Linked DNA regions of Homo sapiens. The protein of the gene in region 1 interacts with the protein of each later gene in a pairwise test. Each region holds a gene or a part of one and is shown on either strand. Other genes may lie near its edges. The genes, in order: PKNOX1, TTC3, SYNM and KIF1A.

Region 1 (3,570 bases):
AAAACGGCACAGATAGGGGAACCCAAAGCCTAACAGTGTGTGTCCTTGGAGGTGAGGGTGAAGGAAGTGGCTGCAGGCCCTGGGAAGTACCATCTTGCATCCGTGTGCAGCACTGAGTGGATACCTCATGGTTCTGTCTTGTGTACACTGTTCAGGAGGACATGTAGAGTGGACATATCACATAGAAGAAGGTCAGTCTGGAAACTGTTAGGAGAAGCACTCAAGGGCTGAGAGGCATGGTCCTTGGTGGAAAGAGCCAGCAGGCCTGGTGCTGGCGGTGCCCTGCTCGTGACAGTGTGCAAAGTCTGGAGCCTGGCCTGTTCCCGCCCTTGGCAGATGGTAGCTCCTTGTTTTGGATTATTAGCCCCTGCCGGTTTAGTTACTGTTTCTGGAAGATTCACATAGAAGGCAGTGTGGTAATTCAGTCAACGTGTTGTCTGGCATGTGGTATAAAACTCCTGTTTAAAGCTCTGATTCTGAGGCCATGCCTCAGGGACTTGAGAAGGGGACAGAGCAGCTTATTTTATTTTATTATTTATTTTATTTAATTTTAATTTTATTTTATTTTGAGATAGGGTCTCACTTTTTCACCCAGGCTGGAGTGCAGTGGCACGATCTCGGCCCACTGCAGCCGGGAGCTTCTGGGCTCAAGTAATCTTCCCGCCACAGCCCCCAAAGTAGCTGGGATTACAGGCACGTGTCATCACACCCAGCTAATTGTACTGTTTGCCGTCTGCGATTGACGCTGGAATGATTGGCTGTTTTAGTCGGGTTCTCAGGGTGGCAGGGAGCAGGCTGACTTCAAGTTGGGTGGGTGGTGAGATAGGTGGTTCAGGATCATGCAGGGATAAAGAAAACAGGAGTCTATGGGATTCTTGGGACCACTGTATTGTTGCTGGGCCTCTGGGCAGATGGAACCATGGTTTGTGCTCTGGCAGGATCCAGTTCTGCACCAGGGCTCTTGGCCTTCCGCTTCAATTAGGTGGTTGCCCTCCACTGTCTGTTCCATCTGTACGCTCCCCTCACAGTGGGGGCTCACCCAGCCTTACCTGCCCTGTACTCTCCCTTTTCCAGCACCCACCTCAGAGAGAGTGCCTGTGCTCTTTCCCCTCACACCACCTACCAGGCGCTGACCTTCGGGCTGGGGGCTGGCCTTGGGTGTTGCAGGGCTACCTGGCCCAGGGAGTGGTGCTTGGGGAGGAATGAGCTTCTGACACCTGCACAAGGAAGGCCCCCTTTGAGCAGGGCCTGCCAGTGGGGTTGGGTCACTCAAAGGGGCTGTGGATTGGTAGGTACTATGATCACAGTTTCCAGAACATAATGCCTGAGTGAGCGCATGTGTTTTGTTACATGTTCTCTCAGACATTTTATGAAGGTTTGTACATTTTTTTGCATTAAAAATGTTAGGAATTTAACTTGACAAGAAAAAGGAGCATAAGGCCGGGTGCAGTGGTTCACGCCTGTAATCCCAGCACTTTGGGAGGCCAAGGTGGGTGGATCACCTGAGGTCGGGAATTCGAGTCCAGCCTGAACAACATGGAGAAACCCTGTCTCTACTAAAAATACAAAAAATTAGCCGGGTGTGGTGGTGCATGCCTGTAATCCCAGCTACTTGGGAGGCTGAGGCAGGAGAATCACTTGAACCCAGGAGGTGGAGGTTATGGTGAGCTGAGATCGCGCCATTGCACTCCAGCCTGGGCAACAAGAGCGAAACTCCATCTCAAAAAAAAAAAAAAAAGTTTAATAAACATTAAATTGCTAAACTTTACGTTCTTCTAAATTTAGTTACGTATTTGAGCATACTTTTTTTTCCCCCACGAAACAGGGGCTTGCTCTGTTGCCCAGGCTGGAGTGCAGTGGTGCAATCTTGGCTCCCTGCAACCTCTGCCTCCCGGGTTCAGGCAATTCTCCTGCCTCAGCCTACTGAGTAGCTGGGATTACAGGTGCCCACCACCACGCCTGGCTAATTTTTGTATTTTTAGTAGAGATGGAGTTTTACCATGTTGGCCAGGCTGGTCTCGAACTCCTGACCTCAGATGAGCTGCCCACTGTTGCCTTTCAAAGTTCCAGGATTACAGGCATGAACCACTGTGGCTGGCCTTTTTTTTCCAATTTTTTGTTATGGTAAAATACACGTAACAAAATTTACCATCTTAACCATTTTCAGTGTGCAGTTCAGTGGTGGTAAGTTCATTCATACTTTTGTACAGCCATCACCACCATCTGTCTCCAGAACCCTTCATCTTGTAAAACTGAAACTCTATACCCATTAAACACTGCCTCCCCATCTCCCCTCCCTGAAGCCCCTGGCAACCACCATTCTACTTCCTGTCTCTGAATTTCGCTACTATAGGGACTTCATACCAGTGGAATTAGGTAGTATTTGTCTTTTTGTGACCAGCTTAGCTCATTTACCATAATGTCCTTAAGGTTCATCTATGTTGTAGTGTGTGTCAGAATTTCCTTCCTTTTTAAGGCTGAATACTCCATTGTGTGGATATACTGAATTTTGTTTATCCATCCCTCAACAGACACTTGAGTTCCTTCTACCTTTTGACTATTTTGAATAATAAAACTGTGAACCTGAGTGTGTAAATACTTCTCCGAGATCCTACTTTCAATTTTTTTGGATATAGATCTAGAAGTGGGATTGCTGGATCATACTGGAATTCTGTTTTTAATTTTTTAGGGAACCTCCATCCGATTTTTCGCAGCAACTGTACTGTTTTATATTCCTTTTAATTTAATTTATTTTTTATTTTTCCAAGGACTCAATAAGGAGAGAGTATCAGTTTACATTCCTACCAACAGTACAGAGGTTCCAGTTTCTCCGTATCTTACCCAACACTTATTTTCTTATGTGTTGTTGCTTTTTTTAATAGCAGCCATCCTAATGGATTTGAGGTGGCATCTTACTGTCATTTTGATTTGTATTTCCCTAATAATTAGTGATGTGGAGCATCTTTTCACATGTTCATCGGCCATTTACATGTCTTTGGAGAAATATCTCTTCAAGTCCTTTGCCCCTTTTTGAATTGGGTTTCTTACATGCATACGTGTGTGCGTGTGTGTGCGTGTGTGTGTGTGTGTGTGTGTGTGTTTTAAAGAGACAGGGTCTCATGATGTTGTCCAGGCTGGTCTCCAACTCCTGGGCTCAAGTAATCCAGTAATACTCCTGCCTCAGCCTCCCAAGGAGCTGGGACTTAAAGACATGGGCCCCTGTGCCTGGCTATGTTCATACGTTTTTACATATTTTTTAAGCTATATTGTGTTATGCTTTTAGTTGGCATTTTAGTGATTTTTAAAACATTTATATAATCCACACATTTCTCGTTTTAAAAATTTAAGGTCTCATACACTTTTGTGAGTCCAGTTTTTTTCTTTTTCTTTTTTTTTGAGACAGAGTTTTGCTCTTGTTGCTCAGGCTGGAGTGCGATGGCATGATCTTGGCTCACCACAACCTCCACCTCCTGGGTTCAAGCAATTCTCCTGCCTCAGCCTCCCAAGTAGCTGGGATTACAGGCATGTGCCACCCCGCCTGGCTAATTTTGTATTTTCAGTAGAGACAGG
Region 2 (3,570 bases), 5.9 Mb from region 1:
TGTAATCCTAGCACTTTGGGAGGCCGAGGTGGGCAGACCACTTGAGGTCAGGAGTTTGTGAAGAGCCTGGCCAACATGGTGAAACTCCGTCTCTACTAAAAATACAAAAAAATCAGCCAAGCATGGTGGCGCACGGCTGTAATCCCAGCTACTCAGGAGGCTGAGGCAGGAGAATCGCTTGAACTCAGGAGGCAGAGGTTGCAATGAGATGGCACCACTGCACTACTCCAGCCTGGGCAACAGAGGGAGACTCTATCTTAAAAAAAAAAAAAAAAAAAAAAAAAAAAAAAAAACCATACCATAAACTTGATGAAAGGACAAATTTCTAAAACTTACCAAAACTGACTAAAAGAAATAGAATACCTGAACAGTCCTATGACTGTTCAACTGCTAATTACTACTAAACCTCCAAGAAGAAAACATTAGATCCAAATGACCTTATAGTTAAGTTCCACCAAGCTTTTAAGAAACAAATCACTCCAATCCAAACTCTCCCAGGGAACAGAAAAAGAGGAACTATTCTCTAACTCATGGTATAAAGTCAGTGTAACTTTAATACCCAAGTCAGATAAGACAGCCAATAAAGAAAAATGAGAAGTGATTCTAGCCATAAACAGACACAAAAATCTAAATAAAATATGAGCAAACTCAATCTAGTAGTTCATAAAAATATAATCTATAAAGACCAATTTGGGTTTATCTCAAGAAAGAATATAAAAGAAAATGAACAGTTTTAAATCTATAAAACGGAATTCATTACATTTAACAGATTAAAGAAGAAAAGACACAAGATATTCTCAACAAATGCAGAAAAGCATGTGACAACTGAAAAGACTTCCCTAACTTAATCAAAGGTATCTACAAAAATTCACAGCAAATGTTATTCTCAGCTGAGAAATATTCTCTTTAAAATTGAGAACAAGAACTCTATGCCCACTATAATCGCTTCTAATGAACAACCCTAATCACTTCCATTGAACGTAAGTATAAAGTATGCCAGCACATTTAAGACCAAAAAAATGAATAAATTAAAAGCAAAAATAACTAGAAGAACTAAAACTGTCACTATTTGCAAATGATATAATTATCCACACAGAAAACACAAAGGAATTTCAGAAAAAATATTAGAAGTAGTAAGTTTATCAAGTGGATGACTAAAGGGTCAATATTTTTAAAAATTCATTAAATTTCTATTTAACAATAAGTTAAAATATTTACTAACAATAAATAAGTTAAGATAGAATCTTTAAGAACACCACCATTTATAATAGCAACAAAAACAATAACATCAGAATTAACATATGAAAAAGTGGAAGACCTCTATGGAGAATATTACAAAACTACACTAAAACTTTACATAAATAGAGATACATACCATATTCTTAAAAATAAAAAGGATCAAAATCTTAAAGATTTCGATTCTCCCCCAAACTGATTCAATTAATTCTAATTAATACCTACAGGGTTTTTCATGTCATGTAACAAGCTAATTCTTAAGAACAAATGACCAAAAATAGGTGAGATTCAAGTCCTCCCCAGATACCGAGATTTCAGGTAAAACTATAGTATTAATGATTAAGACAGTGTGGTATGAACACAGAGACAGACAAGGTGACAAGTGACACAGAAAGGCAAGCCAAAAACAGACCCATGCAGGTAGTAACTAAACATGTAAAAGAGATGGCACAGCAGACCACTGGTGAACAGAGGGCCAATTCAATACATGGTACAGGGATAATTAGAACCACACAGGAGAAAAAAAAAATCAATGTGGATCACTATCTCAGAACATACACAAAAATCAATTCCAGATAAATTATGAACTTAAATGTGGAAGACATCATTTTAAAACCTCTAAAAAGAAACAGAGGAATGTCTTTATAAGCCCAGGGCAAGAAAGGTTCCAATCAGATTATGTTAAAATTAAGAACTTCTGTTCACCAAAATACACCATAAACAGTAGAAAGACAGGCCACAAACCAGAAAAAGATATTTACAACGCACATAATCGATGTTACCAGTTTTAAAAGACAACTCATCAGAACAAAGGGTAAAATATATGACTAGATATTTCATAAAAAGGAAACAAAGACAGTTCATAAACATACAAAAGATGCTCAATCTCATTAATAACAAAAAATGCAAATTAAAACCACAATGATGCATCATTTCATACCCATTCCATTGGCAAATATTAAGTCTGACAATAACAAGTGTTGGAGAGGTTGTAGATCAACTGTAACTCTTACACACTGTTGATCAAAGTATATAAACAGACAAAACTGCTGGCCAAAGTACAAACTGATACAACCCCTTCAGAAAGTAATCTGACATTATTTTGTAAAGCTGATCATTCATACCCCTTGATCTAGCAATCCCATTTCTAGCAAACAGCTTACTATAGTGATACGGCAGTATTTCTTTCTCTTTTCTTTTTCTTTTGCTGCTGAACAAATTAACATGGTGGTATTTCAACCTTTTTTTTTTGCTCGCAAACCACCAAAAGTGCTTTTTAAAATTGCATACCCTTTACCCATTAAGATGACATTTAAAAAATATCACCATAAGATTAAATAATTGCAAAGGGTGAATTTCTAGAACATCACAGTAACATTTTAAAGTAAAACTGATTATCTCATTCTTTTAAATGTATAATTATTACCAGCATATGGTTGGCCAAAAAATATACCCTGATAACATAAAAAAAAAAGCAACTTTATTGGAAATATCTCTCTTAAGGAAATGGATGGGGAAGTGCCAGGATTAAAAGAGGCTTTCCCTAACACTATAGTGGTATTTTAAATTATCCCTTTGTAGGCCAGGCGCGGTGGCCTGTAATCCCAGCACTTTGGGAGGCCGAGTCGGGCAGATCACCTGAGGTCAGGAGTTCAAGACGTGCCTAGCCAACATGGTGAAATCCCGTCTCTACTAAAAATACAAAATTAGCCGGGTGTGGTGGTGCGCGCCTGTAATCCCAGCTACTCAGAGGCTGAGGCAAGAGAATCACTTGAACTTGGGAGGCAGAGGTTGCAGTGAGCCGAGATCGTGCCATTGCACTCCAGCCTGGGCAAAAAGAGCAAAACTTCACTCAAAAAAAAAAAAAAAAAAAAAAAAAATCCCTTTGTTTTCCCCAAGGGAGTTTTCCCCCTTTGGGCAATGCCATAGTAAGATTCCACAAGAACCTGTGGTTTGCCTGTCTTATGTAAAGTGCAATGTTAGAAACACAAGGTAAGAAAGTAGCACTAGCAGGAGGCCTCAGGCATTACCATTTTTAGGAAAGAGTACCTATGGAATGTAATGATCTAGAAACTGATTCATTAACATCATTTGTACCCACACATTCCTTAGCAAATCTTCATTACTCCTCTGGGGCTCATATACCCCAGTGTGAAAATTAGAAAAATTCTTACAACTGTGAACCAAAAAGTATATAACTTCATAACAGCAAAACCTAGAAACAACCAAAATGCCCATTAACAGAAGAATGCATACACTGTGTTATATTCACACTTGGAATATTACACAGCAGTGAAAATTAATGACTTACATCTATACCCAATATTAGTAACT
Region 3 (3,570 bases), on another chromosome or scaffold:
TCTGCCCCTCACCAGCCTGCAGCCCCAACCTCCCGGCCTCTCTCTCTCACCTCTAAGAGGGGAGAGTGGTGCCCACCTCAGAGTTGACTCGGAGCAGAGAATAGTGGCAAAGAACTCAGCACCACGTCTGGCAGGCAGTAAGGACGCCATAAAGCTGGCTATTGTTAGTGTTCCTGAAGTTGGGCAACTGGGTCTCTAAAATTCCTTCCACTGTAAGCGTCACAGACCCTGGCTCCTTCATAGCTGCCCTGAGCATGAGAGCTGCCAGGAAACAAGGGGCACCACCTCAATCAAAGACGCACTGGCACCCAGGGGAAAGGAGGGTGATGCCAAGGAGGGGAGGAGCACTGTTCCGCCGGCCTGCAGGCCACACCCAGGGGGACTGGACTGCATTCTCTGCCCCACCCAGCACCCAGCCCCTTTGAGCGCTTTGTGACCTTTTCATCAGAGTTGGTTACCTTGAACTCAAGTCAACATCTTGATACATAAAGCCAGTTGGCCTACATTAGCATGCACCATGCTAATCTCTTGGAAGAGATTCAGTTCAGGGCCAAACCCACACAGGGTGGCATCAGAGCCCTGAGATTCAAAGCAACAATCAAGCAGATAGACACAGACTTCCTGGGTCCAAATCCTGTGACACGGTTTGGCTCTGGGTCCCCACCCAAACCTCATCTCGATTTGTAACCCCCACGTGTTGAGGGAGGGACCTGGTGGGAGGTGACTGGATCATGGGAGCAATTTTCCCCACGCTGTTCTCATGATAGGGAGTGAGTTCTCATGAGATCTGATGCTTTAAAAGTGGCAGTTTCCCCTGAGCTCTCTCTCTCTCCTGCCACCTTCTGAAGAAGGTTCTTGCTTCTCCTTTGCCTTCCGCCACGATTGTAAGTTTCCTGAGGCCTCCCCAGCCCTGCGGAATAACTGTGAGTCAATTAAACCTCTTTCCTTTGTAAATTACCCAGGCTCAGGTAGGATCTTTATAGCGGTGTGAAAACACACTAACACATCCTGGCCCTCCACTTTCCAGTTCTGTAACTTCTCTGAGCAAAGTCTGTTCATCTGTAAACACAGTCTCCAGTTCCTAGGATCCAACACGTTGACATGTGTGAAGCTCTTCAGCAGTCCCCAGAACATACAAACACTAGGTAAGGGGGCACGGCTCAGCTACTCCCTTGCTGGAGACACCTGCTCAGTGACCTAAGCAAGCCCTACTCTTCCTCTTCCTTTTGGCCTCGGACTCCTTGCCTGGCCATGCCAAGGGCTGCTCTCTGCTTGTCACAAAGCCACAGTGACTCCACAAAGGCTACGGTCCCTAGACCAGTTTCCTTCATGTGCAAGTTACACCCCCATGGCTTCGTCAAGGCCAACTCAGCACAGTCTCCTTACCGGTAGGTCGCCACCTCCAGACTGAGGCCGGTCTTCACCTGCAGGAGGTCCTGATAGTCCCGCAGCCAGTCAGCCATGGCCAAGGTGAGGGTTGCCTTCTCATCCTCCAGGCAGTCAATCACTCTCTAAAGAGAATAGACAGACTTTTATATCAGAGAACTGGAGCTTTACTGGGTCGAACTGAAGGTACCAACAATTCAGGATCGAATTGAAAAACAGACCAGGGTTATTAGCAGACCAGAAAAACACCCGGCGTTATTAAACATGCAGTCACTTGCAGGATGGTTTCCAATGTTGTATCTCTTCCATATGGAAGTTTTTTATTGCATGTGGAACATTTTGATAGGACACTGGCTTCTCTGTTCAGACTCTCTATTAATAATGAATGCTTAGGAGTTTATTCAAATCATCTCTACCGTTTAGACATCAGGCTGCTTAGGAGAGCCAGTGCTTCAAACCAGTCACTAAGACGCTATGGAAAATAAGCCAAGACTAGAAATCAGGGGTTTTACAATATTCAAAACATAAGTCACTCAGAATTGAACTGAAATGTACTCCCCAAAGTCATGATTTCTCCAACAATAAGCAGGTAAACTGATACAGAGTTTTGTTTCACTTAGAAAAGCTACTTTAAGATCATCTGGGGAGAAATGCATTCTGGGCATAAATGACAAACTACAGACTCAGATATAAAACTTCTTTTTGGGCCTAGCGTGGTGGCTCACACCTATAATCCCAACACTTTGGGAGGCCGAAGCGGGCGGATCACTTGAGGTCGGGAGTTCGAGACCAGCCTGGCCAATATGGCAAAACCCTGTCTCTACTGAAAATACAAAAAATAGCTGGGCATGGTGGCGCAGACCTGTAATCCCAGCTACTCAGGAGGCTGAGGAACAGGAATCACTTGAACTCAGTAGGCGGAGGTTGCAGTGAGCCAAGATCATGCCACTGCACTCCAGCCTGAGCGACAGAGCGAGACTCCACCTCAAAAAATAAAATAAAAATAAATAAAACTGCTTTATGAACCGTAATTGCACAGTGCAGCTAGTAAGGGCGTCCTGGGTGCTCCTCGCAGCTCCCCTCACCCCTGGCCGGGTCCCCGACCTGCCTCTCTACCTGGCAGGGAGATACTGCGGCCTTCTGAATCCCAGACCTAGACCAGTGCCCACCACATACAAGTCACACAGCACATAGCTGCTCAATTAAATTTAAAATGAAATGATCAAGATCATATCACCCTCCTCAAAATGTACTATTTGAAGTCGACAGTATCTTCTCAAACAAACATATGGGCTTCAGCTGCACCGATTTCCAGTTTTGTTTTATTCCTAGTTGTTAGTTACTCTGGGGAACAATTAACCAAGCAAGTATTTAAACATTGAAATAAGTCCATGTACTTTTAACTTCTGGTTTGTAATGGGAAGTAGCATTATTTCTGAACATCATTAACTAAACTAAGCTAGACCTATAAACATTTATCTTTGTAGAATTCAAAAACGGTAAGACTACTGGGAGAGGGAATATTATGTTCATTGCTGCTGGAATCCCTTCACCAAAGGCACCCGGCAAGATGCTGAGGGTCCATAATAAATATGTCTGTGAAACCAAGGAATGAACTCTACAAGATTGCACATGGAATTTATCTTTTTGGTTGTTTTGTTTGTTTTTGGAGACAGTCTCGCTCTGTCACCGAGGCTGGAGTGCAATGGCACAATCTCGGCTCACTGCAGCCTCCACCTCCCAGGTTCAAGTGATTCTCCAGCTTCAGCCTCCCAAGTAGCTGGGACTGTATACAGGCGCCTGCCATCACGCCCAACTGATTTTTGTATTGTTAGTAGAGACGGGGTTTCACCACGTTGGCCAGGATGGTCTTGAACTCCTGACCTCAGGTGATCCTCCCGCCTCAGCCTTGCAAAGTGCTGGGATTATAGGCACAAGCCACTGCACCCAGCCAGAATTTATCATTTTTTAAAATGCATGATCAGCCAATAAATATTCCCACTTCTCATAACAGTTCTATTTCTATGCCAATGATGGCTGTTAGGTTCCCTGAATATAAAGGGTCCTGAAGTAGTTTAAAACCCCTTAGCTTTTAAAGCAAAGAAGTAAACTTAAAAATCACTGGCTTATGTCCCAGGGTGGAAAAACGATAACAGATCCCACAGCTGGCATTACAAACAGAGA
Region 4 (3,047 bases), on another chromosome or scaffold:
GGGCCTGGGGGCTCCTAAGGACTGGGGGCCCTGCCCAGAGTCCCCCAAAGTGCAAGGCTGTCACCCCATCCTCCCATCGGCCATCAGTGTGACGCTGGTCCACAAACTCCTGCCATACCTTGGACAAGACTAAGGCCCTCGTGTGCAATGGTGCGGCCTCTGGAACTCCAGGAGGCTCTGAGGATCTGGGCCCAGGCGCAGACCCCATGGACTAGAGACTCTGAAGGGTCCAGGCCTGAGGCTGCCTGGGATGGGTGCAGTGGCCTGGTATGAGGGTGGTAGGTGCTGTGTCCCTGGGGAGGTGCCTGGGGCTGGTTCACAGGGGTGCAACCGGTCACGGGAGGCAGGTGGAGGTTGATCCTCCAAGACCAGCACCCTGTGTACACTCAGTCTTCGACACCTTCCCCACCACCTCCCCATGCCCACCTCGAGAGCCAGCCCCTCCCTGCCTCATCACTGGGAGAGGGGTACTGTCTCTGGACCACGCTGGATGCATGCACCTACAGCCATTTTCCGGGGCCCTGCAACACACGTAACACGCAAATAAAGCCACAGCAGAGCCCATGGGACTGTGTTGAGTAAGAGCCACATTTATTTCTTAATTGGACAGAGCCTCAAGTGCACGCACAGTACAGGAGCCTAGGGCTAACACTCGGGTGTAAGACATCGGGACAGGCGTCGTGACGTCGGGACGGCAGCTATGACATGGGGTCTGGGGTGTGCCCACAGCAATCACATATGTACAAGCCAGGGACGCGGCCTCTGAGCCACAGGGGAACCAGGGGACGGACTAACTACAGGAAGCACAGGCCCAGGGAGAAACGCAGGTCGCCACAGCTGCTGTCCGTCTGGGGGACCGCACGGCCCGGCACCGGGGGTAAGGGAGTGTGCCTTCCGTGGTCCCCACATGGGTGAGGCTGGCATAGGACCAGTGCAGCAGCACAGTAAACACCTGTGACATCAGCCCCACCAGGGCCCCAGGTGCTGGGGACTCCAGGGACCAGGGTTGACAGGGAGGGCCACCTCATCACAGCCGTCCTGGGTGGGGGAGTTTGTGCCTGTGCAGCCGGTGGATGAAACATTGGCATCTTCTCAGCGATGACTCCCAGTGGGAGGCCTTGGACTTGGCACCCCTAGGCACTGGCCGTGTCCCATCAGATCCCAAGTGCTGGTCGGCCTGGAGCCCGGCATCCCCATCTATCTGGAGCCGCAGCGGAAGGAGCTCCCCCTTTCTGGTGGAGGATGGCTGCCCCCAAACCAAAACAAGCCCCCAGACTCGGCAGTATAAAGCATTAAATGAAACCATCTGAGGGAGACGGCTTTCCAGATCTGTCTCACCTCCCCCACTTAGCAGGAAGCAGCAGCCACCCTGGGCCTGGCTGTCTCCCAAGCACCGCACCCCATGAGCACCTCCACACCAGCCCTCCACCTCACAGATGTGGAAACCGACTCCTGGGGAGCTCAAGGAAGGCAGCTAACGTGGTCCCTAGGTGGTTTCTGGCAGAGCGAACTTTTCAAGAAGCCAGGTGTCCTGACTCAGGCGGCCTCCTCTCACCATCAACTCTGAGTTTCTGGGTCCTGGCTTAGGCACTCCTCACTAGAGCAGGCCCGGAAGGAGGGAGTCGGCGGAGGCTGCAGTGTGGCTCTGGGTCCTAGCCAAGGCCAACACGGCACCTGGCTGAGAGGACACAGCCAGGCAGTCTCCATGGCAGTGGAGGCTTCTGAATTTAGGCAGCTCCCAGGCACCTCCACTCAGCCCACCCACGCCGCGAGTGCTCTGCAGGTTGGCTGGCCTCAGACACCTGCGACCTGGGGGGTGCGCCCAGACCCTTTGGAGGCCACAGCCTCAGGCTGGCTGACCTGAGTTGGCCGTGGCAGGGCCTGTGCCTCCTCTAGCCTGCCTGGGGCCCGTGGGGCTCCCCCTCATCTCAGACCAGCGTGTCCTGCCCTGCCTCTCCTTCCTGCCTCCAGGCAGCGCTGGATGCCGGAGCAGGTGCTTCTGCAAGAAGCTGTTCTGCATCCTCTCCTTGCTGCATCTTGGTCCACTGCCTCCAGAGGTCACCCATGGGGAGCACAGGCCACCTGGCTTCTGAATTTTATTTTGGGATGTGAATCCTCACCTGGGAGATTTCCAAAGAAAGCTGCTGTGTCCTGTGTCCTGCCTTCCCAGGCGTGGCTTCCCGAGCCCTGATTCTCCCTCACAGAACCCCCCCATCAGCCCCTGGGAGAGCCTCCCAGGCAGGGGATGAGGGTGGCGGTGGCCACACCGCACCTGAGCCCAGGTACGAAAAGGCGAGCCCACAGTCCCAGCTCCCAAACAGGCTGGCCCAGGCAGGCAGCCACAGAGACTGCAGCCAGCATGGGCCCTGGCCTGCCCTGCACACCACTCTCGGAGATGGAACTTCAGGGGCCCAAACAACCTTCCCAAAGGAAAACCTCATGCCAGAGCCTTCCCATGTGGTGTAGAAGGCCCGTGCTCCCCCACTCCTGAGCCGCTGTCTCTCCCCCAGGCATGGGATTGGGGTCTCTGAGGCTCATGTCAGCATCACGTGGGACAGCCTGGGAGGGTAGGGGCCTCAGAACCAGTGGGGTGCTGCGTTTCCCCCACTCCAGGAGGCAGGATCTGATGAAAGTGCTGGGCCCTAGGTCTGGAGCACCAGACCCGATGTAACTGCTCCCACGGGCCACGGCGGGAGAGGGGCTCTGTTGCTTGGCTACTGTCTTTCCTTGAGCTAAAAAGAGACCAAATCGACCTGTGGGTGTGGGTGGGGAGGGCCCTAAAACCTCCCTAGGCCTCTGGACATGACTCCTATGACCAGACTCTCAGCTTGGGGCTGACCCCCGTCCTGTCCTGGGTGGCCCTCGGACATTGGTGTCTGCAGAGGGGGTGAAATGGGACAAGAACAAAGGGACACCGCAGATGCAGCAGCGAAGAGCTCCTTGAAGACAATAACCACCAAGCCAGCCACCCTCCATTGCCGACCGACCAGGATACCCCCACCCCATGGGATTTTCTCAGTGGGACTCACAGAAACTCTCTGCCCTGG

The links.
Region 2: the proteins of PKNOX1 (region 1) and TTC3 interact in a two-hybrid assay, tested with the Homo sapiens proteins (one large-scale study listed by BioGRID and IntAct).
Region 3: the proteins of PKNOX1 (region 1) and SYNM interact in a two-hybrid assay, tested with the Homo sapiens proteins (one large-scale study listed by BioGRID and IntAct).
Region 4: the proteins of PKNOX1 (region 1) and KIF1A interact in a two-hybrid assay, tested with the Homo sapiens proteins (one large-scale study listed by BioGRID and IntAct).

The regions. Positions count from the first base shown.
Region 1 is NC_000021.9:42,981,010-42,984,579, forward strand, and holds part of PKNOX1 (homeobox protein PKNOX1), read left to right. Parts: intron 1-3,570. UniProt on the Homo sapiens protein: Activates transcription in the presence of PBX1A and HOXA1.
Region 2 is NC_000021.9:37,076,241-37,079,810, reverse strand, and holds part of TTC3 (E3 ubiquitin-protein ligase TTC3), read right to left. Parts: intron 1-3,570. UniProt on the Homo sapiens protein: E3 ubiquitin-protein ligase which catalyzes the formation of 'Lys-48'-polyubiquitin chains. Mediates the ubiquitination and subsequent degradation of phosphorylated Akt (AKT1, AKT2 and AKT3) in the nucleus.
Region 3 is NC_000015.10:99,111,532-99,115,101, reverse strand, and holds part of SYNM (synemin), read right to left. Parts: intron 1,512-3,570; coding exon 1,387-1,511; intron 1-1,386. UniProt on the Homo sapiens protein: Type-VI intermediate filament (IF) which plays an important cytoskeletal role within the muscle cell cytoskeleton.
Region 4 is NC_000002.12:240,713,197-240,716,243, forward strand, and holds the end of KIF1A (kinesin-like protein KIF1A), read right to left. Parts: 3' UTR 571-3,047; downstream 1-570.